Linked DNA regions of Homo sapiens: all the other regions are reported to be linked to region 4. The links are microRNA targets in miRTarBase. Many come from high-throughput screens and were not tested one by one. Region 4 holds a microRNA gene; each other region holds the end of a gene's coding sequence.
The links. Region 4 holds the annotated microRNA hsa-miR-3663-5p (GCUGGUCUGCGUGGUGCUCGG, at 1,105-1,125, shown strand). A microRNA usually pairs through its seed, bases 2 to 8, with sites in the 3' UTR of a target mRNA and lowers its output. Matches are read on the target gene's strand: a 7mer-m8 pairs with bases 2 to 8, a 7mer-A1 pairs with bases 2 to 7 and ends in A, and an 8mer does both.

Region 1 (4,066 bases), not on the chromosome of region 4:
TGAGATCTGAAATTAGAGCTTATAATTATTTAAAGTAGTCAATAATGCTAGCGTTAATGATTTTAAATACAGGTTATAGGTTTCTAAATGACATAATTTACATTTTAATATACAGGTGCTTTTAAGAAGAATTAGGCATTAAGGCTGCCCTTAAGAATGTCTTTCATACTTAATTGTCTAGGGAATAAAAAACATAGGATAGAAAATTGGTTGGATTTCCTGTTTTTTGCTCTTCACTTAAAGATAACATTATTCTCTTTATCTCTGCAAAATAATTACAGATACAAGACCTATAACACAGTTTCTTCTTTTCACAGCTTCGGTGTTTACTTGCCTGGCAATAGCATTGGGATTTTATAGATTCTGGAAGTAGTATTAATGCTCATCCTGCTGTGGCTGTTGGCTTCTTAGAACACCAAACCGGGAGAGATTTACTTTGAACATTGTCAGTTGCAGCAAAAATTTACTACACAAGATTATTCGAAGTGTATACGGACTAAAAGAGGAAGTGTTTTAGAATGAGAAGAGATACTGTGTCTTTATTGTGTGTGTGTGAGTGCAGGTGTGTGTCTTTATTATATTGAAAAGCTGTCACTCAGACCTGGTTTGAGATAGAAGAGCATTTTGTCCTTTTGATAGTTAATAGAAATTGAACCAGAGTTTTCTTATGTTTGCTTGAACAGTTGTGTAAATCATACAGGATTTTGTGGGTATTGGTTGAATATTTGTAAACCATTCCCTAGCCTACATATTTATTACTGAATTAACTTTCCTGATAACCATTGCATAATTACATTTTTCTATAAAATGAAAGATTATTACAACAAAGTTGTGTGGGTTTTCAAAGTGACTTACCATATAGTTGGAGATTGATTTCTTTTTGGTAATGAACTAAAACAATAAATTTTAAAATGATAGGCCAGGCGCGGTGGCTCACACCTGTAATCTCAGCACTTTGGGAGGCTGAGGCGGGTGGATCACTTGAGGTCAGGAGTTCTAGACCAGCCTGGCCAACATGGTGAAACCCCGTCTCTGCTAAAAATACAAAAATTAGCCAGGCATGGTGGCACATGCCTGTAATTCCAGCTACTCGGGAGGCTGAGGCAGGAGAATCTTGCAGTGAGCCGAGATAGCACCACTGCACTCCAGCCTGGGTGACAGAGCAAGACTCCATTACCTAAATAAATAAATGTGTGCTTTAGTGCAAATTACAACACTTAATATGAAATCTGTAGAGTTGCTAAATATTGAGCTCTGATTATTACATGTATTTTTTAAATATTTGATACTCAAAAACCAGTTTATCCCTGCTTCTTAATGTAGTTTAAGTTAACCCATCTTAAATTTATTACATAAAACAAAGCTTTTCTTAATGACTTCAATTCAGCAAACATTGATATCTAGTACCTACTCTCAAGAAACTCATAGGAAAATTTAAATTCGTATTTTGTTTTGTTATTAGATATATTTTTTCTTACAAAGTAATATCTATTAGTAAATCATATGTAATTTCAAAGAAATTTTAAAATATCCTTTTCATCTTAGTTCTTCAGTCTTACCCAGATCAAGAAGACAAGACCAGAAAGTAAACATTTTGAGTTCATAATGCCTTGGTAATAGCTATAAAAGTTTGACAATCATTATTCAAAATAGCCTTGTCATTTGTTTAGCTATAAACAGGGAATCTGCAGTATAGAGCAGTCAAGAGATTGGTCCATATGGTCCAGTGAGTGAGAGTCAGGCTTTCCAACTATATTTTCCTCAAAAATCTAACTGCTGGTTTGTTTTCAAAAGAAAAACCTTGACATTATCCTGTTACATTCTGATTCATTTTTATCTCTATTGCCTAAGAGAGTTCTTAGTATATTATAGATTAATTTTCACTGAGTCAATTAATAAGTTACCATATATATTAAAGTCCACTGTAACAAAGTATACTGCATTTGTTCAGTTAACCAATATGACTGCCTGCTATATGCCAAACAGCATGCTAGTCCCTGTGTGCACAGAGATGAACATGGTTTCATTCTCATTGAATTGACAATCTTAAGGAGAGAGACATAAACAAGTAAATTATTGGTTTGTTAAGATTTAAAATATTCTAAAATATTAAGAGGGAATGCGTCTTTCCTCCATGTGAAGGAAGCTCCAGTAGCATAACACTGTCGTCACTCTTCATCCCCTTATCCACTCTGCCCTAGGTAAAGTGACTTGCCCAATTGTAAATCTGGAAGGAGAAACAAGGTGCAATTAGCCCACTTCCTCCCCACTCCTGTTTGGGACCAGCCCATCTGAAGAGACATTCATTCTGTTCTGCTTCTATGGGATCAGGCTCTGCCTCTGCAGGATGAGGCCTGGCCCAGTAGAGCAATGCTTGAGACAGGGTAAATCTGTCCAGTTCTAGAGTTCAGTGATAAGAAGCTTACTGGCCTTAAGATGAAACCCATATTCTCTTGCTGAGCACAGTGGCACACATCTATAGTCCTAGCTGCTTGGGAGGCTGCGGCAGCAGGATTGCTTGAGCCAAGGAGTTCATCAAGGCTAAAGTGTACCATGATCATACCTATAAATAGTCACTGCACTCCAGCCTGGCAACACATGAGACCCTGTCTCCTAAAAAAAAACTTCTCCAATAGTTTTATCAGCAAATAAAGGTGTTTTTTAGGCCTCTATATTAGTTTATTCATTCTTCATCTTAGTTATATTCACAACCCAGAATGGAAAGGAGGTATGCCATTTATTGGACCTTCTCAAGCCCCAACAAATAAATATACTTATTCCCAGGTTATACAGCCACTAAATATTAAATAGATCTGCGTTCTTTCTCATTGTAGGGGTTTAGCAAACAAAGTGCTTTGTATCCAATAACAGAAGAATAGAAATATGCATACCATACCCTGTCCCCATTACTTTTAGATCCTATATCCTTTCCATGAAACTTCATTTTGATGGTGGTTCTGGGGTTCAGGTAAATTTTTGTTTCAGTGATGGAAATATATGAAATAAGGATGAGAGGATTGTGTTTCTATATGCCTTAAAACTATACCTCTATTCCAGCACTTGCACTTCACTATGAAACAGCAATTATACGTATCTTTTTCCTACACTAAACTACAAGTTCTCAGAAGGCCTCTAGACACATGTGAGGTACTTGTTAAACGCCTGTGGAATAAATGATACTCATAAATCTCAGTTGACCTTAATCCAAACTTTTTAATATTTTAAATATTTAATTATGGGTATGCTGAAAATACTGCATTCATACTGAGTGAGCGTAATACACCTTTTAGGCATTTTCTATGAGTGGTAAGAAGCCTCCACAAGGATTAGCTACTTTCACCATGTTTATAGCCACAGTGTAGATCCTAACCTGCCTATCCATACTGCTTTGGTGACAAAATAGGCCAGGCAAGAGTATGTAAGGACTTGGCAAGAGTCAGGAAAAACCCTCACCTATTGGAAAAACAATTAAAAGCTTATAATGTTGTCAAACTTGAAGAATTTGGATATGTAACACTTGTTTATTTTTTAAGTATTTTTTAATATTTAAAAAAAGGGCAGTGGGAAAGGCTGTAGTCATTATCACTGAAACTACTGATTGCTATTTTGAAAAAAAATAGCTATCATTGACTATATGAGGGCAAATATGCTAAATAACATATATGTGCTCACCTATTTTCACAGCTCTCCTCTTAGGTAGATGGTATCCTCATTTTACAGCTGAAGAAACAAGTTTAGCCAAGTGAAGTAACTTGTCCACAGTCCCCCAGCAAGTAAGTCACAGGGACTCAAGTCTTTAACTCCAAATCTCACCCTCTCATGCTGTCACTCAATATACTAGTAGGGTTCAACCTGAGTACTCTTTCTCATGAGATGGACAATCTACTAAGTCATAGGAACAAAATAACTTAAATCTCTTTAATAACCTTTTTTTTTTGTTTCATTAACCTAAATGTGTCAATAATATAGGTATATGATTTATGAATAAATATACACAATTTGGGAATTGTATTATAATTTTAATTTAGCTGCTGTAACAAGATCCAGAATAGCAGTGGCTTAAATA
Region 2 (4,063 bases), not on the chromosome of region 4:
CTGGAGTGCAGTGGCACAATCACGGCTTACTGCAGCCTCGACCTCCTGGGCTCAAGTGATCCTCCCACCTCAGCCTTCCAAGCAGCTGTCACTACAGGCACATGCCACCATGCACTGCTAACTTTTGCATTTTTTTGTAGAGTTGGTGTTTTGCCATGATGCCCAGGCTAGCACTGTAATCTTAACACTGCCTTATATATTGCTTATTAGATACACCTTTGTGTACATGTGTGTTGTTTTCGATTAAAATTTCCTAATTATGAGGATAAGACCTTTTATTCTTATTTCTGTTTTTTCATTTTTTATTTTTAGCTCCGACTCAGATTTTGAACGGATGTTTGCATGTATACCACAGTGCTACATTAAAAACCAGTCATGTGGATGTGGAGAAGGGTGCTGATCAGGACTCCCTGTTTGCTAACAAATTCTACAGCAGAAACAAAGTATTAAGGTTTGCAGCCAGGAAGCAAGTGCATGGGGAATAAGCCTGCAGCTTCTTCCAAATGAGACAGAGCCAAATCTTTTTTCTGAGTCTGTTTTCTTCATTTCTATTAAACCAAGGTCCTTTTTAAGCAGTCGAATTTCATCCAAAGCCAGAGTGAGCTACTTTGTTTGGGGGAACAGTAACAGTTACCTCCACCACTGACTGGCTGCCATCTGGATTGATCCGGAAAGATCCCATCTGAATGGTCTTCTTGGGGTCCACCTGGGCAATTTCCCATTCTAGTTCATCCACCAGAGCCCTGCATGCTGGTGGAAGAGGAGAGAATGAGAGCAGGGGACAGGGTAGGGGGTAGGGTGTGAGGAGAATGGGATCAACCCAGGATTTCCATTCATCCTTCTCCCAGGCCTTGGATCTCATGCCCTCCCAAGGCTCTGCTTCCTCCACTTCTTTTTCCCGTTGTGCCTTTACCTCCACAGTGGAGATCCTGGCTCCTCCGAGCCCAGGCGGTTCCCAGCAGGGCCCCCAGAAGCAGGGCCAGCCAACCCCAGCCTTTCATCTTTAGCGTAATGGGGTCGCTCCACCTGGGTTTGAGTGGGAATAAAACATAAGTGTGAGGAGCCGACTCCATTTTTCCCTGACCCCCCCAATCCTCACCCCAAGGCTTTCAAAGGCCTCATTGTGACTCTGGCTCTACTTTCCAGGAAATGGCCGGGACACAAAGGGGCTTCTCTGTTCCAGCGCTTGAGGGCTCTGATTCCCCCAGGGTGGTGGGTGGGAGCGCGAGCTCAGGACTTGCGGCTCAGCCCCAGACTCTACGTGGATAGGTGAGGCCCTAAGTGTTGGTACTTTAGCACTGCATGCCTAGGGTTCACGGGGCTTTGTGGCAGCTACAGGAGGTAAGTTGGCGATTACGTGAGGACTACAGGCACTAGGGAACTGCCGGCAGGGAGCCCTCAGTCAGGCCAGGAGGCCAGCGAGGAGAGCAATAACTAGGGCCCATTTGGATCCTGCACCGAAGATTCCTGCGTCCCCACCTCCAGCCCGTAAGTGATTACCCGTACGGACACCAGCCCCCTTTCTAAGGACTCCGCCATTGCTTTCGCTTCAGTCCATCCCCAACCCTCAGCGCCCAGCGCCTCGCCGCCCGCATCCGTCCCACCTCTGCTCCCAGGGCCGCCGCCGTGGCCCAAGCGCTGGAAGACCGCTGGACTCTCACTTTGGCCCCAGTGGCTCCCGAAACTACACCTGGCTGCAGGGAGCAGGGCTGTCCGGGATTCTCCAGAGCGCTTCGCCGCCTGCCACACACGGGGTGTCCCGGCGACCGCCTGACCCAGCTCCCCTGACGCTAACTGGTACCTAAGCGGGACTCCAGCGTGCTGCGGTGCGAGCCCCAATCAGACACCGACCCCAAACCCGCCCCTCCAAACTCTCGCGCGAACAGGCAGCTTAGGAGAGGCTCCCGAACAGCAAGGACCCCGGTCAATCGCCGAAGGACCCAGACTTGCGTGGCGAACAGATCCACGTGACCACCAGGGGTCAGCCGTAGAATAGGAGTGGCCTTAAGCGACGACAGAGTCCGGGCGTGCTGTATGGGAGCGGCTAGTCGTGCGCGTGAGCCAGCCCAGGTGGGCTAGGACCTTCAAAACGGTGCGCTGCCGGCCAGCGAGCAGTCCAGGTTTCAATACACAGGAAACTACATCTCCCAGGAAGCACCGCAGCACCGGACCCATCTTTGTGAGCAACTACAAGTCTCAAGCTATCCTGGGACCTGTAGTTTGTCGGCTTACACAATTAACGGAAACCATACTGTACATCTTCAGTCTGACTTAGGGTACTGGGCAGCTATAGCAAAGACCCAGCATTGCCCAGAAAAGGCATAAATTATACCTTTTTCCCCTTTTTTTGAGACGGAGTCTCGCCCTATCGCCCAGGCTGGCATACAGTGGCGTGATCTCGGCTCACTGCAACCTCCGCCTCCCGGGTTGAAGCAATTTTCTGCCTCAGCTAGGGTTACAGTCGCCATCCACCACTCCCAGCTAATTTTTGTATTTTTAGTAGAGACGGGGTTTCACCATCTTGGTCAGGCTGGTCTTTAACTCCTGACCTCGTGTTCCACCCACCTCTGCCTCCCAAAGTGCTAGGATTACAGAAGTGAGCCACCGCGCCCGGCCTAATTATACCCTTTCATATCCATAACTTTGGATTCCGGACCTTTACCTTCAAAGGAAGGAGAGGAAGACTGAAGCCAGAGAACCCACACTAGCAGTTCTCTAATGAGATAAATAACAAACGATATTTTATTTTTATTTTATAAAACATGCAGTTTACAACAAATTTTTAAAAAATGGAACAAAACTTGGGACAGGCAAGTGGGATGGAAGACAGATGCTTCTCAGCCATCAGCAGGAATAAATGAAGCCGGCAGCCAAGCTTTGTCCAGGATCCAAAGGCCCTTTTGGCAATGGTATTGGCAACACTGGTTTGCTTGGGCCACCAACACTCTACTTGCTGGCCCCTCCAGGTATCCCTGAAGCAGTTGGTGACTTGTGCTAAGTCTTGAACTACTGTGGTATCCTCTGTCACTGTCCAGGACTTCAATCCCTAGCCAGCTAGGAACTTACAGTTATGGTTCCAGGAGCTTCTCTGCCTGGATATTAGTCACCCAGGATATTAAGAATACCAATTACTTTCCATCTGGGTCAATTCTAGACTCCATGTCTGTACCACTGTTTTGCAAAGAATGAAGAAGGAATGAATCTGGCTCCTAGAACCTTTGCAACAATTCTGCTGTGTTCCAGTTCAATTAATAGCACCATCTGTGACCCTAGACCCTGAGCACGTCCAGTACTGGAAGTGGACAAGGTATAGCCAACTTAGGAAGCCATCTCCCAGTTCTGGGGCTATAGAACAGTAAAGGGAGAGGGCCGTGGTTCTTTGGGAAGGGTAGTCAGAGCGCCAGCACTGAGGAGAAGACAGCTGCATCTGTCAGAGACAAAACCAAAAGCATGATTCAAGCTGAGTGGAGAAAAAGCATCTTCTCATACTTCCTATGAAGGAAAAATGCAAGAGAAAAAAGGGCATGGACCTTCCCTGAACATTTTAGACTTGGGCAAGAGGAAGTTATAGTTAATGGAGAGTTTCGATAAAATGTATTTTACTGAATGTTAGGAGGATGAAGTGCTTTGTAAACTGTTAAGTGCTATTCTCCATATGTGCAATCAAAATCCACCCAATTGGGGGCGCTCAGGCTCATGCCTGTAATCCCAGCACTTTGTGAGCCCAAGGTGGGTGGATCGCTTGAGCCCAGGAGTTTAAGACCAGCCTGGGCAACATGGCAAAATCCTGTTTCTACAAAAAGTACAAAAATTAGCTGGGTGTGGTGGTGTGTGCCTGTTGTCCCAGGTACTTGGGAGGCTGAGGTGGGAGAATCACTTGAGCCCAGGAAGTCGAGGCTGCAGTGAGCTGTAATCACGCTACTGCACTTCAGCCTGGGTGACAGAGTGAGACCCTGTCACAAACAAACAAAATACAAAATCCACCCAGTCCAGTTTCCCTTGTCCCATCCCAGGTCTTACTCTTGGGACTTGTTTGGCCCTCAGGCTCAGGCACCTTCCAGTC
Region 3 (4,066 bases), not on the chromosome of region 4:
CGGTGTCTGCCTTTGCCATTGGGAGGCCTGAACTAATCAAACGTTCATTAATAGGATCCCAGCCTAACAGCAACGCTTATGTAGCACCATTCTTAGAAACTACCAAGTATCACACAGGTACATGTGTATGGGGACCTTCCTCTTGACTGCTTGTCAAGAAAAGGATCCAGAGGGAACTTCTGCCCCTACTTCCATGAAGTGAGATGCAACAATCATTTCCAATCTATTTTTTTATCTCATGCTAAAATGAAAGTGGAGGGGAGAGGGAAGAAGGCTCCCATTCTACAATTATAAATGCTGTCCTGGTAGCCTTTCTTCTCTTGCCGGCTAACAATTGTTCTAACAGCATCCCATGGAGGCCAGCAAATGAATGCCCCAGGGACTACAGCCAGAAAATTGTGCCTGTAAAATATCATATTCCTCTGGAGCTTGGTAATATAGAAATTTTACCTCTACAGATGAGGCAAACTAAAATATTGTTGTAACTCAAAAAGGCTTCTGAAGTGCTGAGTTAGAATAAATATATATAGATACATACACACACTACATTGCTTTGGATGCAGGTTCTTACTAATTTATATACACATGTAAAGAGAAGATACTGAAGTGTCTAACTGTAATTTAGCAGCAGAAAAAGAAAACTGCTTAACATATTTGCTTCTTAATCAAGTTGTGTTTAAAGAAATGCATTAATACTCCTATGAATTTGTATCATTGATAGTGTATCTGGATAATCCCAGTAACTACAGACAGAGACCTTGTGGTATGGAGGTTGCTAAATGAGGGGAACACTAATTCCCCCAGAGATAACATCTGAGCTGCTTTAGACTCTGGAAGTGGTTTTCAGTACAATTGACGCTGTAAACTCTGAAAACACGAACATGATTTCCAACCAAATCTTTGTGCTCAGAGCCATATTGCTAAAAAGAAAAAGGCATTGCAGAGGCAAAGTGGACATGGGGTTAATTAAACAAGGCCTCTGAATTCAGGTGTGGCATTTAGATCCTGCAATGAATGGACCTATTTTACAGAAGTCAGCGGCAAATTTTTTGTATTTTTTGGTACAGATGGGGTTTTGCCATGTGGACCAGGCTGGTCTCGAACTCCTGGCCTCAAGTGATGCACCTGCCTTGGCCTCCCGAAGTGCTGGGATTATAGGAGTGAGCCACCACGCCCGGCTACGAGTTGGGTTTTAACAGAAGAGGACCTTGAATGCTGAAGCTTCACAGGGCGGCCAAACTAACTCGCTGATTTTTGCAAGACCACAGTGTAAAGGTCGGATGTCCACCTGAAGAAGGGGTGGGTGCAACTCTCTGGGTGCTGCACACACCATGACCAGCCTGGGCATGCAGCACCCCAGCTCCCATCCATTCACACTGGTTGCCTTTGTGAGGTCCATTTTGAGAGGGCTTTCAGAGGCCTTTTTAATGAGAAAAAAAAATAGCTGTTCTACAAAGAACCTAAGATACATACACTCCTATTTATCAAGATGGCTAGTCCAGAGCAAACATTACATCATAGGCCATGGGGGTTGTCACTTAGCTGCATGCTAAGAATCCTCATATGCTGCTTTGAAAACGCCATAAAAAACTAAGATGCCCTCATACACAGAAAAGAGGAGTTGGGCCAACAGCCTGCGAGAGAAGATCCTTCCCAACTCTGCCATTCTTACTGCAGGAGGGTTTGTAATGCTTCCCCACTTCCTCAGGTCCAGCGACTGCACCTCCACCACTGGAGTGGGGGACACTTCCATTGCTGATGGAAGCTGCCTACTGCTTTTAAAAACACACACATGAGCTGAGAAGTTCTGCTGAAGGTGGGGAGAGTGCTGCTCTTGGCTGCCAGCCGGGTCTAGCGGCCCTAACAAGGGAAACTGGCTGATACAAAATGGATCACTGCCTGAGATATATGAACTGGACTGAGGATAGAAGTTGCATCCGCTGGGCAAAATGTGCCAAAGAACAGAAAGTACTTTCAATTTATTCTTTTAGGCACCAAGAATAAATAAATCCTAAGAAAACTTACGGTAAGCTTGACATAACCAAACTCAGGCTAAAGGAGACACAAGAGGATGAACGCCCTAAGCTTTCAGCCAGGTTTGTCAGTTTTAACACACATCTCACCCAATTCTGCAAGAAGTTTACAAACAATTCAACTTAAAAAACATTCAGAAGTACTATCATTATACCCTTTCCCTCAATGCCATCTTACATTTTAGGGATAAGTTTTAAGCCAAACTATAAGGCTACCTGGAATGCTGAGACAACACACAAATTCTGCTGAGTCCCCGTCACAGACTACTTCTGAAGGTCACCAGTGAGGGCCTAAACAAGAGTCCACTTCTTGTTAGTATAATAACTTTTTATTTGACATCTACAAGATTTTGGCATCTTGCAGCTTTTTACCAGGTTTATACAATCTCGATTTTTCAATAGTGCAACCTGTGGAAGCAAAAAAAAAAAAAAAAAAAAAAAAAAAGAAAAAAAGAAAAGAAAGAAAAAGAAAGAAAAGATAAAAAGACCAACTGTCCCCTCACTTGTTTTTATAAACATCTATTATAGGCGAAACAAAACTTACCCATATTATATAGATAAGTGTCTATTCACATTTGTACATTACCATTTTTAACAGCTTGAGATAAACTCTACGTCTTACAACACATTAAACAATATTCAAGTTACTGAGTAACAACAATAACAACAATAACAAAAGAACACACAGCAGAAGCCTCAAGTGTTTCCTCATTGTCTACAACTCAGGTATGGTTTCCTTTTTATGAGTGACAAAGCAAATTAAGATAATGAAGTAAAAAACGATTGTTTGCAAGATGAAAGCCAATTTGTACTTCCTTCTAAAACTACCTTTAAGTTGCAAATGTAAATTTAAGAGGCTCATAGCCATTTCTGCAGCACACATTAGGAATACTATTAATACATTAAAATTAACTTTTAAGAGTTTTATCACAGAAAAATGTATGTATTCATTACCTTGACCAGAAACCCAGGGCAGGGAGAAGGGGAAGGAGGGGTCTGCAGGGTTTGAAGCAATACCCAGGTATAAACACTATAAAAATGCAATAACCAATGCTGTACATCTAACAAATGTTTCTCTCTGTTACTCGACTCCTGTGTTAATCTTGTTTCAGCATGCTTCCAAAGACATGCACTGTCAGAACAAAAATTAGAAAATAACCTGAATGCATGATATGCAACCTTTCATTTCATGCTTTAATAAACCTATTAAGTTGGAAAAAGAAACCAATATATATTTTCTATATTTATAGACTCAAAACACATGCATCCGGGGATACCTCCCACAGCAATGGCATGGATGTACTGCGTTAACCCTGAGCACTGTATAAACATAAAGTAAAGCCAGTTTGGGAAGTTCCAAGCATTTTAAACCAACTGTGGTCTGTAGCCTTTAACACACTCACAAACAGACTGACACACACGCACACACACATCCCCCTCTGCTCACCCGAAGTAAAAGCAGATGGGAATTATCAGGGGAGAAGCTAAAGGAAAGACATATGTACCACCATCAGCACTGCTGATTTTCAGTTTTGCTATCTATTCCAGGTTTGTCCTTACTCCCAAAAAAACTAACTAGAGAGCACAACTGAAAAAAATATATAATTCTTTGGAAACTGTCCCTGATTTTTATGCAAATGATATGCTTCAACAGCATTTCAGATCCATCCATGTTGAAACCTGTCTGTTCTTCATGCGTTGCTCAAGTTGGTGATGCTCTGAGGGTGATGCTGTTGCCATAGCTGTTTCTGTTGGACCGCAAGCTGTTGAGACTGGTCTGAAGTTGATAGGAGATTTACAAGAGGAGACACACAATTTGCCGGAATGATCAAACCTGTAATTAGTAACAAGAATTTATCAAGTTGTGTCCAGAAGAAACCACACTGTACAGCTTCACAGCAGATTCCAAATGAGGCATAATATTAAGCGTAATGGACAAGAAGTTCACACAAAAATTAAACGACTACCTAATAAATGAAATGGCCATTGAGATGTAGTCTGATTCTTCCACAGCATTTCCCACAAATACCCAA
Region 4 (4,066 bases):
TGTGACTGCCGAGAAGGTTGCGGCGCATTGGCGGTTCGGTTCACGGGACGCGGGCGTGGGGTGTGTGGGGTGGGATGGTGTCGGGGGCGGGGGGGGGTGGACAAGAGGGTGTTTGGTGGTGGTTGGGAGTCCCGGCGATCTTTTTAAAATTCAGATGCCAACAGTTCTCCACCCCTGAACTTGAATGGGCTTTGGGTTTTTGTTTATTTGGGGCTTTTCTCCTCTTCCAAAGCACAGCGCTTGCCCCCAGCGGCCTGGCGTCGGGCTGGAGCCCGGCAGAGGGAGGGAGGAGACCGGCATCCGCGCTCGCTGATCAGAGAGAGCCGGGCCTGCTGCTGGGGAACGTGGAGGGGCTCCGGACAGCCACGCGCCCTGGCCGGTCACGGAAAGCTCTGAGGGACATTCGGTCGGCCGTCGGGGAAGAGGCTGGCCGCCGCAGCGCGAACTGGGGGTGCGGGTGGAGCGGCTAGAGGCGCCGGGGTGAGTGGGGATGGAGCCCCGAGGGCGTGGTGCGCGCTCGGCTTCCTGCCGCCAGGGGGCGCCCACAGGCAGAGCCGGGCGGGGCGGCAGCTACAGAGAGAGGGGTGCGTGGAGAGCGACCAGGCCAGGCCTGCAGAGCGCAGCCCCGGCGCCATGTCTCCAGGCTCGTTCCGACTAGTGTTGGGTCACCCTCGGCTCAGCCCCGGGGGAGGACGAAAGGGTTGCGTGCAAGGCCTAGCACCCAGTGGCCATTCATTAAATACGTGCTGGCTGACGAGCTCAGGAACGGCTCTAGGGAGCAGCTGGCTCGGAAACCTCAAGTCCAAGCCCACTCATTCCCGTCTCCCTCCCCGACGGCCTTTTAGTTACCGTGCCCTGGGCCGCGACGGCTTCCTTTTAGATTGGGGCAGCAAGGGAGCCCCTGCGCAGCGAGGACGCCGACGGGGCGGCGGGGAGGGGTTGTCCGGCGGTATCCCCGCTCCGTGCTCCTCGCCTTCCACTGCCTCCCCGGGACACAGCAGTCATGGCTTCGACTGTGACTTCTTAACTGGCTCCTCCCTGATCGCTGAGCTAAGCCACAGGAGAAGGGGAGGAGGGCTTCCTTCCCGGGACCTTGGTCCAGGCGCTGGTCTGCGTGGTGCTCGGGTGGATAAGTCTGATCTGAGCACCACACAGGCCGGGCGCCGGGACCAAGGGGGCTCGACAAGAGGATCTCAGAACAAGCTGAGTCTCTGGAACTAGCTGGGGTGCGTGGAAGTACGCGCCACGGCCCGCGATTCCTGGGAGCGTGTCTCAACTTCTGCCAGTGCCAACGCAGGAGAGAGAATTGCGGCTCAGAGAGGGTAGCGTGAATGGAAACCGAAGGGCGAGAGCTTGGCTCTCTAATGCCACCCAACTTAGTGGTTCAGAGCTTGGCCTCCAAGGAAGATTCAGTTCAAGTCCCCGCTCTCCAACTTACCAGCTGTGTGATCTTGGGGGAAGTTAACCTCTCTGAGTCTGTTTCCTGCTCTGTAAAATGGAAATTTAAAAACTTAAACATCTACTTCGGTCGAGGCTGTTGTGAAGAAGTGGGATTGTGGGTGCATAGCTCTTAGCACAGTGCCTGGCACAGGTTAAGGCTGGATACGTGGCAGCTGTGAGGCCCAGTGTTCTCGTAGCTGGCCTGGCCAGATGCAATCATAAGCGAAGATGACTCACTTCCCACAGCAGAGGTGTGCGAAGCCCTGCGCACCTGCTGTAGTCTGCACCCGGGCAGAAGAGAACCCAGGAGCGTCGGGACCTCCAACACTCAGCCCTCAGGGCTGAGGACACTGCGCTGTTTCTGCCCCTTCTAAAACCGGAGGCCGCGATGCCCCTGTGCAGTACCGGCTGGCGCCCACCCTACAAGCTGATTCCTGGGGGCCTTTCCTGCAGCGGACGCCGGCAACCATCACGACCGACCTTGACTGAACACATGTGGGCATCCTAAGGACATTACCTCAATCCTCACACCATTCCTGAAAAAAAAAAAAACAAAGAAACTGGTGCTCAGAGAGGCGAAGTAACTCACTCAAGGTCACACAGCTAGAGGGTGGCCAAGCTGGGACTCCAACCCACTCTGGCTCCGGAGCTGGCGCCGCTTCCTTCCTACCTCTCTATCAAGCTCAGTCTCAAAGCCTGGGACAAACCATCCGGTTGGGGTGGGAAAGGCCACGCACGTCCTGGGGTCGAGGACCCTGTGCCCACGACAGCAGTCTTCTCGGCACCCGTAGAAGCCAGTGCCAGACAAGTTGGGTTGGAAGGGGCAGGCTGGGCTGGCGGAAGGGGGCTCTGGGCCCCGCCCTGCCTGCGCCCCCCGCGGATCACGCCTCCGTGCTCAAGCTCCTGCCAAGTTTGCCCCCATCTCTCAGGTGCCCTTGGACTGAGTGACTAAGCACCTCGGCACCTCTCCAGCCTGGGGTGCGAGGAGGGGCTGGCCCTGATACCCACTTCCTTTCTTCTCTGGAAAGCCAAGGTGCCAACGAAAGATGCCCTGGAAGCTGGTGTTCCTTAAAGAATGAACAGTCCCAGCTCCAAACGTGTCTCTCTGAACGCAAGCCTCTTCCTTCCGTTCGCCTGGGCCTGTAGTCGAAGTCTCCTTGGGTCCCCAGCCCCCTCCCGGGTAGACGTCAGCCTGGAGGTGGATGCCGGAGTCGAGAAGGGTTGCGGACCATGCTGGGGACCTGGCTCAGGCAGTCAGGGGTCCGGGTCCTCTTTGGGGAAGTGAGCGCTTGAGGAGGAGGGAGAAAGGCTTTTGAGTACGGCTTGGGGGGACTTCTTGAGGTCCCTCGGGATAGCTTCTCTGTTAGGCGTGTAGCCAGGAAAGGAGAAAAAATCTGTCCCGCGCAGCCCAGGGAGGAGCCTTGCAGCTGCGGAGGGGGGCACTTTCGGCGCTGGATACCAGGGGGCAGTGCTGCGCAGCGAATCTGCCGGGCTCCAGCCGGCAGCCCGGGGCAGCAAGTTTGCTGAATTCCCTCTGTCTCTCGAATCCGCTACGAAGTTCCTCCCAGGGCGCTCCTGACGCCAACAGCCCCCTCGCCCCGTAACATGCGAAAGAGGGCACGGTCCTCTCTGTCCGCGCGTTGCCGTCGGTGCGGGCGTCCTGGCTGTCTTTCCTTGGTAAAGGCAGCTACCACCGGGTTGGTTTTTGACCACTGACTTGGCCCTAGGGAAACGTAAGGTGGGGTGGCGGGGTGCCCCGTCGGGTTTTTGCAGGCCGTGTGAGCAACCTCAGAGTAGAGGTTTGAGGGGACTTTCTCAGCCTGGGCTGGAGCCCCCAAAAATGCAGGCGCCGCCTTTGAGAGGAAAAAAAAAAGCGCTGGAGGTTGGCCGCCTGCATTTGATCGCCTTCCGAGTTTACGTAGAAATCCATCCGAAGAAAGGTCCGATAGAAGGCGGAGAAGGCGGAGGCCCACCCCTGTCCAAGTACGAGCCATCCCCAAAGTACAGGGATGAGAAGGGGGGCTGAACCTTCTCTCCAGGACCCAGCGCCAGGCCCACTACACCCCCAGAATCGGTGTTGTTTGGGAAATGCCTTTCTATCCTAAAGGAGGCTGTGTCCAGGCTTAAAATATGCAGAAGCAGTGAGCAGACGGGACCCGGTGACGTGCGCGGGGCTTTTCCCACCCAAGGGGCTAGGAACTCCACTCCCTGTCCCGTCCCGGGGAAAGAGACCGAGCACTCGGCTCCGGGGCCAAATGTGAGTCCAGGAGCTTGGTGAAATAGAAACCGGACATATTCTCTTTGGACTCGGCCTCCTTTTGCTGGGATTTTTGTTTTTGGTTTCTCTCTCTCTCTCTCATAGCGCTTTGCAATACATAAAATAAAAACGCATGTCTGTGTGTGAATGCTTTGCCCGTTCTTTGAAGAATTCACACTTTAAAATTGCTTTCTGTGAGCGCAGAGGAAGAACATATAAACCACCGTTATGTAATTTGAAACCATCAATAGCCCCCTTTTAAGGTTGTCTTTATTGTGGGAAGTCAAGGTAATGATTTTGTCGCTGTCTAATTTCATCCCAATGTATGGCGTTGCTTTTATAGCCTTTCAAAGGTAAGTGAAAGGCATC
Region 5 (4,066 bases), not on the chromosome of region 4:
GCATTAGGTTAGCTTGTGGCCCACTCTGTGGCTTAAGAGCTGCTGTTAGTGTCCCATGACACTGGGATCCCAGACATAAAGAGTGTAACAATGGAACTAGGATTTTTTGCATGATATCCATTTTTTACCAGGTGAAAGAGCCTATAGGTGCTTGGTGCTGGTATTACACACCATTCTCGGGGAGATGAAGAAAATGCTTTCCTAAGATAAACTGTAGCATGGTAATAAATAGTCCTCCTTAAAATGACTAACAGCTCTTATGCTAAAGAAGTTTTGGCAGTCTCTAACTCAATATATCAATTTTTCAGAGCAAAAAGGTGTAATCTCTCTGCAACTAGACTGGGTTGCTAGTTTGCTGACACCAGAATTAGAATTTGAAAAACAGTAATTTCTGGTACTAAATATTACTTCAGAGTCACCTTCCAAATAATTACCCTCCAAATAATCTAAAATTCTTTCTTCCTTGTGCCGCCTGCAATATATACAGCACTATCTTCTCAATACTGAATTTCCTCATCTCACTCAGCCTTTTTACTATCAAATACAGTGGGCCTCTATAACAAACAGTTGATGAGTCATTCAATGTCTGCTGAAGAGAAATACAGAACAAATAAGTTTGTTCTTTTCCAGGCCAAAGCTTACTTGAGGATTGCTGTGGAAGTGGTAAGAAGATTGCCATCACCTTCAGAATGATTCCCCAAGTGTCCTGGAAATTTGCCTGGTACTGACATTAAGAGGACCTTTGGAAATCAGCAATGTGGTGATGGAACCTACAGAAATAATAGAAATCATAACTGTTTTATTTCTAAGGAAAGAATGTCTTCATATTTGACTTGCTAAGCTAAGGTTCACAAAACTTTGATGTATCAATGTTAACTGCTATATTTAGGAATTTTTTGAAAGCTGGTGTGTACCACCTGCAAAGAACTGCATTTTATTTTATTGAATTACCCCTTTAGAAATCACGAGTTTATGATGTTACAAGTCCATTTTGGGAGAGAACTGTACACTTTTTGCAGGACCACAGAATTAGTAATTTAAATGATATACTAAATTTGTGTATGGGCATAAGTATTACGCCTTCCCACCAGGCAATTTGGACTGTCTTTGAATCCTGTCTTTGGTACTGTCTTGGACATGTTCTTAATATGAACCTCTGCTTCTTCATCTGGATCACACTATACCCCAGACTTAATGAATTTCAGTCTCCAGGAGTGGAGCCTGAACATATGTATTTTTAGTAAGACCATGATGATGTTGATGATGATTCTGGTAATCATGGCAGTAAGAATAATAGCTAACATTTAACAAGTTAATTATAATTGTTCTTCCATTTGTGTGAGTGGGTACTATTATCTCCATTTTACAGATAAGTAATTTGAGATATAATTTGAAGGCACTCAACCTTGAGTGTCTTGCTGAGGGTTACTGTATCTAGCAGGTGATGGAGCTTGGATTTGAACTTGAGTAATTCGATATTAGATTCATCTTTTTGTACACCAATGTGCTTTTGTTAATTAAAAAAAGTCGGTGGTGGCTAGGCGTGGTGGCTCACGCCTGTAATCCCAGCACTTTGGGAGGTTGAGGTGGGTGGATCATGAGGTCAGGAGTTCAAGACCAGCCTGACCAACATGGTGAAACCCCGTCTCTACTAAAAATACAAAAATTAGCTGGGTGTGGTGGCATATGCCTGTAATCCCAGCTACTCGGGAGGCTGAGGCAGGAGAATCATTTCAACCCGGGAGGCTGAGGTTGCAGTGAGTGGAGATTGTACCACTGCACTCCAGCCTGGTCAATGGAGTGCGACTCCATCTCAAAAAAAAAAAAAAAAAAAAAAAAAGTCGGGGGAGATGCAATATTTAGCATTTCCTCAAACTTTTTTTGGCCATGAAATCCACCACCCCCCTCCTTTTTCAGAGCATTTCATGAAGTTCACATTTCAAATAATACATTTTGAAAAACATTTATCTTGTCTAATTGAAGCTCAAAGAGATAGAGTCAATGACTTTTCAAAGTCAGGTAGCAGATAGTTTTAAAGCTGCAAGTACTGATAAGTGTGAGCCATTAGTTAATTCGCATTTATAAAGAAGTGGTCTGTCACTTTTGGCAAATGTCTTGACATCTGTTGCTCTACAGTTGTCAACTAGAAAATTAGGCATAGAGTTTCACATTATTATAAGCATGTTTTCACACAAAAACATGTACATTGATGTTTATTGCAATTTTATGTGTAATAACCAAAAACAACCCAGATTTTCTTCATTGGGTAAATGATTAAACAAACCATAGTACATTCATACCGTGAGTGCTACTCAGCAATAAAAAAGAACAAACTATGGGTACAGGCAGCAACTTATAATTCCAGAGAATTATGCTGAATGAAAAAGGCCAATTTAAAAAGGTTTTGTACCAAAAGATTCCATTTATATAACGTTCTTGAAGTGACATAATTATAGAAATGGAGAACAGATTAGTGGTGGCTGTGTTAAGGAGGGGGTGAGGATGGGAGAGAATTGGGCGTGGCTGTGAGAAACATGAGGGATCCTTGTGATGATGGAAATGTTCTATATCACAGCTATCGATGTCAGTATCCCAGTTGTGATATTGTGCTATAGTTTTGCAAGATGTTACCACTGGGGGAAATTGGGTGAAGGGCACATGGAATCTCTGTATTATTTCAACTGCATGTAAATCTACAATTATCTCAAAATAAAAATAAAAGTTAAAAAAACACAAACTGCTATATCTGAACTGAAATTTACTGGACCAAATTATACTAATTAATATCATGAATAAAATTATTTGTGGACACACTGTAATCATATCACTCTGAGAAGGAAGTAATGACTTAAAGTTTCAGATATTCTTTGTGTATTTATTGTCTGTTGAGGAAGAAGAAAATATAGATGATCATTGAGCACTTGTGAATACAAAAAATACTTAAACCAAACTTAACTTTTTTCAAAAAAGAATGACTTAAAGTTGTATGTCACCATTTAATACATATCATAGGGAAATGGGAAAGGTGGTCTTTACTCATAAATACATGACCGAGAGAAGATCCACATATAAAATTCCCTGCCCTCTTCTCCTCCTTCTTTTGACTGTTGTCTGCAGATGCTTCAAGGAAGTCTACTGAAACAAATGGCGGTTGGAATATATATGCAGGTTTAGACATGGAGGAAGGAACAGTAGCTATAAAACAAGAACTAAGCTTATTCTAAAATTTTGCCACCAACTCCAAAGGTAGACTGAAGTACAGGTAGTTTGCCTGTTTGTTAAGGAGTGATATTTATTTTCCATTCTTCACATCTCAGTAGAGTGTAAATAAAAGACTGATATTTTGAAAAGGTGAACAAAATTGGCAAACCTTTAGCCAGGCTCATTAAGAAATGAGAGAAAGAAAGATGACATAAATCAACAAATCAGGAATGAAAAGGAGACATTATTACAGACATGAAAAGGACAATAAGAAAGATTACAAACAACTTTATGCCCATTAAATTGAAGACTTAGATGAAATAGACAAATGCTTTGAAAGAAACTACCAAAGCTCACTTATGGAATAGATATATTCCTTTAATATAATTTATGACTGAGTAGTCATAAATTACTTTTAAAAATATAATTTGTGTTAAGAACCAACAAAGAAAACTCTAGCCCCAGATGCCTTTACTGTCAAAATCTACCCAACATTGAATGAAGGAATAATACCAGTTCTACACAAACTTTACCAGAAAATAGAGGGGGCACTTTCCAACTCATTTTGTGAAGCCAGCATTACCCTAATATGCAAACCAAAGACAAAGACAATACAAGAAAAGAAGAATACAGACAAATGTTCCTCATAAACATAGACAGAAAATTCTTCAACAAATCTTACTTAATTGAATCCAGCATTATATAAAAGGATAATACATATGACTACAAGGTCATTTTCCTGGGAACACAAGGTTGGTTCAACATTTGAACATCAATCAATGTATGGCAGATTCAAGAAGAAACAGTAAAGCAAAACAGACTAAAGAAAAAAAGCATGTTTATTTGAATAGGTATAGACCAAGCA
Region 6 (4,066 bases), not on the chromosome of region 4:
GAAGGTACATCCAGATAGAGATTACCAGTAGTCTTAAATGTGGGCCTGAATTTTAGGAAGGAAGTTAGGTTTAGCAATATAAATTGAGGGTCATCTGCATTGAGTGATTATTGAAGACAAAAGAGTTGAACTCACAAAGAGTAGGTTTGTACTGTAAGAAGTGGGAAAGCACAGTTTTAAGGAGCTTTTGAAGTAAGGGGCTGGAAAAAGATCATGTGTTAACCTTTGGTATCAGTTACTGATGATATAATGAATTAATAAGAGACATAATTTCTCCTGTTTCCCTTTTCAAATGTTACAGAACCAGGCTTTAGCAAAGATGGATATATTGGTGACTGAGACAGAAGAACTGGCAGAGAATATACTCAAGTGGCGTAAACAACAAAACGAAGTTTCGTCTTGTATCCCCAAAATATTAGCTGAAGAAAGTTATCTTTATAAACATGATATTATAATGCCTCCTTTACCTTTTACTTCTAAAGTTCATGTCCAAACTATTAATGCCAAGTAGTCATCAACTTTATTTTTGCTTAATTATGTGTAGTCATATGAAGTCTATTTCTAGTTGACTGTAACATGGGTATTAATAGTCTTTGCTGCTGGTAATACTGAAAGAACCTGCTTTATATTGGAGTATCAAGATCTCAGGTTCATTAAGACCAAACTGACTTTTCCTTTGTTTTTCATATATTTTTATTCTACCTTTCAGTAAAACTAGAGAAGCTAAAAAATAGCCATGACAATTTATTAATATAAGTGAATTAACCATTTCTCAGGTGGGAAATTCTCTTTTTTTAAAAATGTGTGTTTATCGTCTGGTGTGGTGGCTCACACCTGTAATCCTAACACTTGGGGAGGCTGAGGCGGGCAGATCACTTAAACCCAGGAGTTCAAGACCAGCCTGGGTAACATGGTGAAATCCCATATCTACAAAATAAACAAAAAATTAGCCGACCATGGTGGTGCATGCCTGTAGTCCCAGCTATTCGGGAGGCTGAGGTAAGAGGATCACCTAAGCCTGTGAGGTCATGGTTGCAATGAGTCATGATCACGCCACTGCGCTACAGCCTGGGCGACACAGTAAGACCCTGTCTCAAAAAAAAGAAGTGTGTTTCTGGCCAGGCACGGTGGCTCACGCCTGTAATCCCAGCACTTTGGGAGGCCTAGGTGGGCAGATCATGAGGTCAGGAGTTCGAGACCAGCCTGGCCAACATGGCGAAACACCTGTCTCTACTAAAAATACAAAAATTAGGCCGGGCGCAGTGGCTCACACCTGTAATCCCAACACTTTGGGAGGCCGACCCAGATGGGTGGATCACCTGAGGTCAGGAGTTTGAGACCAGCCTTGACAACATGGTGAAACCCCATCTCTGGTAGAAATATAAAAAATTAACCGGGCATGGTGGTGGACGCCTGTAATCCCAGCTACTTGGGAGGCTGAGGCAGAATAATCGCTTGAACCCAGGAGGCAGAGGTTGCAGTAAGCCAAGATCGTGCCTCTGCACTCCAACCTGGGTGATGGAGCAAGACTCCATCTCCAAAAAAATAAAAAATACAAAAATTAGCCAGGCATGGTAGCATGTGCCTGTAATCCCAGCTACTCAGGAGGCTGAGGCAGGAGAATCACTTGAACCCAGGAGGCAGAGGTTGCAGTGAGCCCAGATCGTGCCACCGCACTCTAGCCTGGGCAACAGAGCAAGACTCTGTCTTAAAAAAAAAAAAAAAAGGTGTTTCTGAATTAGAAGGGTCTTCTTGAATCTGAAAATGTCTATGATGATTATTCCTGTGGGAATGTCACTAAGTATGCAGAAAAGAGTAACACAGCCAGCCTGACTTATCCTTTGAAAGGCCTGATTATAAGGTTTGTCCTCAGCTGTTGCATCTGGGAACTTAGATATCAGAAGGTATCTTAGTCTGTTCTGCTGTCATAACAGAATTACACAAACTAAGTATTTTATAATGAACAGAAGTTTATTTGGTTGACAGGTGTGGAGGCTAGGCAGTCCAAGAACATGGTGCCAGCATCTAGTGAGGGTCTTGCCATGGCAGAAGGCACCACATGGCAAGTGAGCATGAGAAAGATATATGGGTCTAAACTTAGCCTTTTATCATGAGCCCACTCCCAAGATAGCAGCACTAATTCATTAATGAGGGCAAAGCCCTCCTTACCTAATTACTTTTTAAAGGTCTCATAACACTTTTACAATGTCAATTAAATTTCCAACACTTGAACTTTGGGGGACATATTTAAACCTTAACAGGAGGGCTCCACTCACTGAAAAGAGTCGTTCATGGTAGCTAACCTGTGGTTTGTGCTGAAAACCTGCTTTCTTCCTGGGAGTCTAGAATTTTGGTACATGGTAGGTAGAAGGTACCTACGTGACCAGCCCCCAGTAAAAACCCTGGGCACTGTATCTCTAACAAGTTTCCCTGGTAAACAACATTTCTCACATGTTGTCACAATTCAGTTGCTGGTGGAATGAAACAACAGATATGTGTGACTCCACTGTTAGAGGACTCTGGAAGCTTATACCTGGTTTCCCCCAGACTTTGCCTCTGTACCTTTTCTCTTTGCTGTTTTGCTTCATATGCTTTTGCTGTAATAAATCATAGCTGTGTGATGATATGCTGAGTCTTGTGAATTCTCCTAGCAAATCATGGAACCTGGAGGTAGTCTTGGAGACCCTGGCATACAAAGCAGTTCCTAAGTGTTTACTGGTAGCTGTAGGAATAGGCAAAGAAGAAACAGCAAAGAAAAAGGCACACTGTGGTATAACTTTGGAGGTTTACCTTGCAAAATGCTCAGATATTTTACCTATCAGAGGTTATTGTGCATATAATAGAGAGTGATATACTAACAACTGCCTCAGGATATACTCTTTTTAATCAGTATTGTAACTAACCTTGGCTTATTTTACTTTTAGACTTGGGGTTCTATTTTGCTTTAAAACATGTACATCAGTTTTGTTTTTTGTTTTGTTCTTTTCTTTCCTTTTTTTTTTTTTTTTTTTAAAGACAGGATCTCACTCTGTCACCCAGGTTGCTGAGAGTGTGGTGTGGCCCAATCTTGACCTCACTGCAGCCTTGACCTCTCAGGCTCAAGTGATCCTCCCACCTCAGCCTCCCAAGTAGCTGGGACTATAGGCACGCGCCACCACGCCTGGCTAATTTTTGTATTTTCTGTAGAGACAGAGTTTTGCCATGTTGTTGAGGCTGGTCTTGAACTCCTGGGTTCAAACGACCCTCCCGCCTCAGCCTCCGAAAGTGCTGGGAGTACAGGTGTTAGCCACTGCGCCTGGCCTCATTGTACTCCTTAACACAAGAAGACTTCAACAATGATAAGTAGTTGTTTATAAGGAAGCAGGATCATTACCAAAATAAATCCTGCTAAAACAACAGGAATCATGTTTTAAAGCCTAGTTTGCTAATTTTTGCTAGTAGGATAAGAGTGATCGTAATATCTCGAACATTACATAGACACTTAAAACCTTTAGTTGTATTTCATCAAAAATCTGTTCATACCCCACGTTGGTTTCAAAACATACTATGCTTTTTCTTCGTGTTATTTCCTATATTCATTTTTGTGTGTATGTGTATGTCACAAATATTGATATGCCTGGTTGTTTATTTTTGTTTTCTATTATGCCTTTTTCAAAATATAAAAATAAACTTGTAATTTCTAACTAAAATTTTTTAGTCCTAGTCTGAATTTAAAGTGATAGAAAGGACTGATGCACTGTTTAACTTATACAGTATAGGCATATAGGCTCTCAGAATCAAAAGAGCTTGAGGTAAGTTAAGCCTGAGGTCTACTTCAAAGAGAAAGCTAATTTAATACTCTTCCAGAGTCAATCAGTGCTGATTAATTTTTCTTTAATTATTCAACTTTTAGATGTGTGGATATTAAAAAAAAATTAGCTCTGCATGCCTTTTTTTGTTGTTGTTGTTGTTCTTGTTTTTTAGATGGTCTTGCTCTCACCCAGGCTGGAGTGCAGTGGCACAATCATAGCCCACTGCACTCTGAACCTCCTGGGCTCAATGGATCCTTCCACCTCAGCCTCCCAAG
Region 7 (4,066 bases), not on the chromosome of region 4:
TCAGTCCTCCCCACTCCAAGGCTCCTCTCTCTCCCCCAGCCCCCGGCCTGTCCCTCTGTCCTCCTTGCATTGCCCCCTCCCCCCAGTACCCCCCTGCCCCTCTCCACTTCCCAGCTGCCTCCCTCTCCCTGTGCTTCTCCTGTCCACGTCTCTCAGGGGGAGCTTCTCCCCTCCCCTCCCCCAGCCTCTCTGCCTCTATCTCCCCTCTAGTCCTTTCTTCCCACGTCCCCACACCTCACCCTCCCCATCTCCAGGCCTTCGGCCAGCCCCTCGCCCCTCACGCCCCTCTTCCCTCACAGACCGCTCGGGCCTGCTGTGTGTGGACAAGATCGAGAAGAGTCAGGAGGCGTACCTGCTGGCGTTCGAGCACTACGTCAACCACCGCAAACACAACATTCCGCACTTCTGGCCCAAGCTGCTGATGAAGGTGACTGACCTCCGCATGATCGGGGCCTGCCACGCCAGCCGCTTCCTCCACATGAAAGTCGAGTGCCCCACCGAACTCTTCCCCCCACTCTTCCTCGAGGTCTTTGAGGATCAGGAAGTCTAAAGCCTCAGGCGGCCAGAGGGTGTGCGGAGCTGGTGGGGAGGAGCCTGGAGAGAAGGGGCAGAGCTGGGGGCTGAGGGAGACCCCCCCACACCCCTTCTCTCCTTCCTCTCGTCCTTGGATAGATTCAGCTCCCACACACACACCCGCACTGCCCAGGTCCCTCCTCAGACCTCCAGCCCTGGGACAGGGCAAACAACTGAACTTGCTATGGAAAGGACAGTGTGGGAGGCTGGGGGAGCTGTGTCCTGCAGTTCCCAGGACCCCATCCTCTCAGAAGGTAGGGGAAGGGCGGGAGGATTGAGAAGGGACAAGCCACCTTGACCGTAGGGGAAGGAGGAATGTGGGCTGGGGGAAGATGCCCTCAACTCACCCCCTACACACACATGAGAGAGAGCCCCCACCCAGTTCCTTGGCCTAGGTCTCCCCTCCAGGCTGAGGGCCTCTCTACTTCCCCAGATGCCTGGGTGCAAAGAACGGCTTGGCTTGGCTCCTCCTCTGGAGGTTAAAATTTATAGTCATTCTAACTGCACTTTGGAAACCAAGCAAGGGGAGAAGACAAATGAAGAAAAACTAGACAGAGAGAAAAATACAAAAAAGAGAGAGCGAGCGATAGAGAGAGATGATATTAAGTTATTAACTGAGGCTGACCAGAGGGGAGGACCCCCCCTTTACCACCCCATGCACTTTGCGAGCTGCCCCTTCTTCCCCCACATCAGAGAGAAATGCCCCCACACCAGAGCCCCAAGGGTAGGGCTGCCGATCAGAGCTGTGAGTTAACACAACAGGGTCCTGGCCACCCCCCTTGCCATACCCCGCCCTCTGTGCCCCTTTGGCACCCCCCAACCCTAGTATGTCCTCTGCTTTCTGCCACTCGTGCCCGCTGAGTTCCATCTACCTCTCATGCTGGATGCCAGCTGGCCCCTCACCAGCCTGCCCTGCTGCCCACACAGCTCCCCTTTAAGTGCCCAGCCCTAGGGGCCTCTCCCCATCCACCTCCTCCTTCCACACCTTGGCACCCACCCAGGAAAAAACTGTGGCTCCAACTCCTACCCTCCTTATATCCTGCAGTATTAGCTAGAAACCGGATGCTGCTGCATTGGTTGGGTCGGGGGTAGGAGGGCTGTGCGTGAGCGTCTCCCAGAACCCTCCACCCCTTTAGCACTCTGTTTCCCTGTTTCCCATCTGTCTTCTGGGCTCTCTCTAACCTCTGCCCTCCTCCCCAGCTCCTACTCACTGCACTAACTCTGGGCGGGCAGGTACCAGAATGGGGGTGTTTAGATAAGTGACACTTAGTTGGGGCCCCAGGGGAGGGGTGGTCGGTGCTCCTTTTTCTTTAAAGCTCTTTTGGCCAGCTGCCCCTCTGCCCCGGGACCCCTTCCCCTCTTCTTTTCTCTAATTCAGGGACTTTGGCTTGAGCCCCTCTCGCCCTCCTGGTGAGGGTGCTCTGTTGGTCTGCACTTGGGTGAGCTGTCCTCCTCCCCCTCCCTGTGGCTGCCGCCCACTCCTCAGGGGAGAGAGGGAGAGAGGAGGTGGTCCTCCCATGGGAGCAGGAGGTGGGGTGGGACAGAGCAGACCAGAGGGTGCTGGGCTCAGGGCTGCATGTCGGCAGGGATGGATGGGTGGACACAGATGCCCCCGGAAGCCATGGGGATTGGGGCAGGGGGTGGGGGGAGGGGTGCCAGGGCTTCCTGCGCTTTGCACTATTGGGGCAAAAATGTCTTAAGCAGTGGGGAACCTGCCACCCCACCCTGACCCTCAGCCTGCCACAGCCCCCTACACACACACACACACACACACACACACACACACACACACGGACATGCACACACGGACATGGGAAGGCAATGCTATGCTGCCCGTCAGGGCACTGTCCTTCCCCAATCGTTCAGGTGTTCCAACAGGGGTGGAGGGCCTGGAGGAGCACCCGCTGTCACCTGTGCATGTGCCTGTCCCACCCTGCTGGGGCCTCGGGCTGCCCGCGCTGTCTTTGTCTCTATCCTCTCTCTCTCTCCTGGAGTACTGAATCCTGTATTACTCCAGTCCCATGGGTAGGCCCTCTTGTACCTTCCTACCACGCCTGGGGGCCCAGTGGAATTCCTGACCTGTCTGCTGTCTTCCCCATCCCTCCATCCCCACCCCAACCCCTCCATCCCCATTCTCAGCCATGGACACGGCAGAGAAAAGGCCTTGAAGAGCCTTAGCCTCTTATAGGCACTTGGGACTCCCCCACCCTCCCCAATCATATGAGCTGTGATCCCATCCTCCCCGGACCCCTCCCTTCCCCCTCGGTGATGTGGGGTGTATGTGTGCGTTCCTCTGCGTGAATGTGTGAGTGAGTACACATGGTAGGGGAGGAGCCAGGGCGACTCAGGAGTGCCACGCACCTGCTCTAGAGCGGCAGCTGTCCCAGTCCCTGCTGTGGAAGTGGGGGACAGGGCCCTCTCCTGGGGGCCATTGGTGCTAATGAGGGGGATGGCCTTGATGTGGGTGCTCAGCATGCCTCCCCCAGTATTGGCCCGGGGCACTAGGGCAGGCAGGGTGGAGCAGCAGGTGCAGTATCGGTGGGAGGACGGGTTGCTGGGAATAGGACGAGGGGGCCAGGCCAGGACAAGGGGTTGCCAGAGCCATGACCACTACCCCGCCCCCACCACCCGCCTCTCCATCTCAGTATTGCCCCTCCCATCACTCATAACACACATACCTCATCCAGCCTCCTCCCTGCTCAGACTTGGGGAGGGTGGGGGAGGAGCCCCTACCCCTTCTCCTGGTGGCGGGTCTGCAGGGCTGGGAGAGGGCAGGGCGTTGTGAGAGAGAGACCGTCCATAAGGAGGACAGTAACTCCTGCCCTGGGAACTCCTGGGCGGGGGGGAGGGGGACACTGCCCAGAGGCGCTACTGAATGTATGAGAAGCTGGTGCTGGGCTGGGGGGAGGGGGGTTGTGGCCAGAAACAGGGAAGGAGGTAGGTCTCTTCCCCAGGGAGGGGTGGGACCGGCAGGGGTGACTTGAGGGGCTCCTACTCCTGCCCCACGTTGACAATCAGTATGTCTGTTATGTGCGATTTTTCACCCCGTTGTGTTTTGGGTCAGGATTTTAAAGAAAGATATTTTTATGGTAATTGTTGCTCGTCTATTTTACTATATATTTATGTAATAAATATATGATGAAAATAACCCCCTTGGGCACCCCCCTTAGACTTGTGTGCTGTTTCCCTATATCCTCCCATCTGCTGGCAGAGTACCCACCCCACAAACTGACCAGATGGAGAGGTGGCCCCCCCCAGCCTTGGCAGTATTTCCACCCCACCCCCCAAACGAGCACACACCACAGAAGCCAGCTCAGCTGTGAACTATTGGATTTGAGACAGGAACAGAACAAATCAGAGGGCCAGGGGAGGGTTGTGGGGGAGACAGAGTGGTTTAAATAGGGGAGGAGGGGAAGTTCGGTGATGGGGGAGGGAGGCAGGTATTTACAAGAAGGCTCAGGGGGCCAGAGGCTCATCTTGGAATATTTTATAA

Region 1: the mRNA of CCDC90B is a reported target of hsa-miR-3663-5p. Seed matches in the 3' UTR shown: 7mer-m8 at 999-1,005 and 8mer at 1,576-1,583.
Region 2: miRTarBase lists PAN2 as a target of hsa-miR-3663-5p. The part of its 3' UTR that is shown has no 7-base or 8-base seed match.
Region 3: miRTarBase lists SBNO1 as a target of hsa-miR-3663-5p. Seed matches in the 3' UTR shown: 7mer-m8 at 1,093-1,099.
Region 5: miRTarBase lists NUBPL as a target of hsa-miR-3663-5p. Seed matches in the 3' UTR shown: 7mer-m8 at 1,615-1,621.
Region 6: miRTarBase lists HAUS2 as a target of hsa-miR-3663-5p. Seed matches in the 3' UTR shown: 7mer-m8 at 894-900, 7mer-m8 at 1,196-1,202 and 7mer-m8 at 1,337-1,343.
Region 7: the mRNA of THRA is a reported target of hsa-miR-3663-5p. Seed matches in the 3' UTR shown: 7mer-A1 at 1,196-1,202, 8mer at 2,121-2,128 and 7mer-A1 at 3,804-3,810.

The regions. Positions count from the first base shown.
Region 1 is chr11:83,258,218-83,262,283 of GRCh38, reverse strand. CCDC90B (coiled-coil domain containing 90B) reads left to right here. Exons shown (of 9, transcript NM_021825.5): 9 at 318-3,203. The coding sequence ends at 373. It also overlaps a transcript of ANKRD42 not described here. Among named protein-coding and RNA genes, the nearest start is that of CCDC90B-AS1, 26 kb to the left of the region's middle.
Region 2 is chr12:56,314,217-56,318,279 of GRCh38, forward strand. PAN2 (poly(A) specific ribonuclease subunit PAN2) reads right to left here. Exons shown (of 26, transcript NM_014871.6): 25 at 4,021-4,063; 26 at 2,720-3,427. The coding sequence ends at 3,393. CNPY2 (canopy FGF signaling regulator 2) reads right to left here and starts at 1,772. Exons shown (of 6, transcript NM_014255.7): 1 at 1,605-1,772; 2 at 914-1,026; 3 at 635-750. The coding sequence starts at 1,001. CNPY2-AS1 (CNPY2 antisense RNA 1) reads left to right here. Exons shown (of 2, transcript XR_002957416.2): 2 at 313-592. RefSeq lists enhancers at 1,757-2,345, 1,846-1,895, 1,976-2,125.
Region 3 is chr12:123,292,184-123,296,249 of GRCh38, forward strand. It overlaps SBNO1 (strawberry notch homolog 1), which reads right to left. Exons shown (of 32, transcript NM_001167856.3): 32 at 1-3,867. The coding sequence ends at 3,725. Among named protein-coding and RNA genes, the nearest start is that of CDK2AP1, 22 kb to the left of the region's middle.
Region 4 is chr10:117,164,793-117,168,858 of GRCh38, reverse strand. MIR3663 (microRNA 3663) reads left to right here and starts at 1,085; the gene lies at 1,085-1,181. The region is part of intron 1 of MIR3663HG (MIR3663 host gene); the gene reads left to right. RefSeq lists an enhancer at 2,712-3,266.
Region 5 is chr14:31,858,488-31,862,553 of GRCh38, forward strand. It overlaps NUBPL (NUBP iron-sulfur cluster assembly factor, mitochondrial), which reads left to right. Exons shown (of 11, transcript NM_025152.3): 11 at 631-2,737. The coding sequence ends at 693. Among named protein-coding and RNA genes, the nearest start is that of LINC02313, 84 kb to the right of the region's middle.
Region 6 is chr15:42,566,306-42,570,371 of GRCh38, forward strand. It overlaps HAUS2 (HAUS augmin like complex subunit 2), which reads left to right. Exons shown (of 6, transcript NM_018097.3): 6 at 302-3,689. The coding sequence ends at 511. Among named protein-coding and RNA genes, the nearest start is that of STARD9, 7.3 kb to the right of the region's middle.
Region 7 is chr17:40,088,907-40,092,972 of GRCh38, forward strand. It overlaps THRA (thyroid hormone receptor alpha), which reads left to right. Exons shown (of 9, transcript NM_199334.5): 9 at 300-4,066. The coding sequence ends at 550. NR1D1 (nuclear receptor subfamily 1 group D member 1) reads right to left here. Exons shown (of 8, transcript NM_021724.5): 8 at 3,887-4,066. Among named protein-coding and RNA genes, the nearest start is that of NR1D1, 9.6 kb to the right of the region's middle. RefSeq lists enhancers at 1,684-2,309, 2,310-2,936.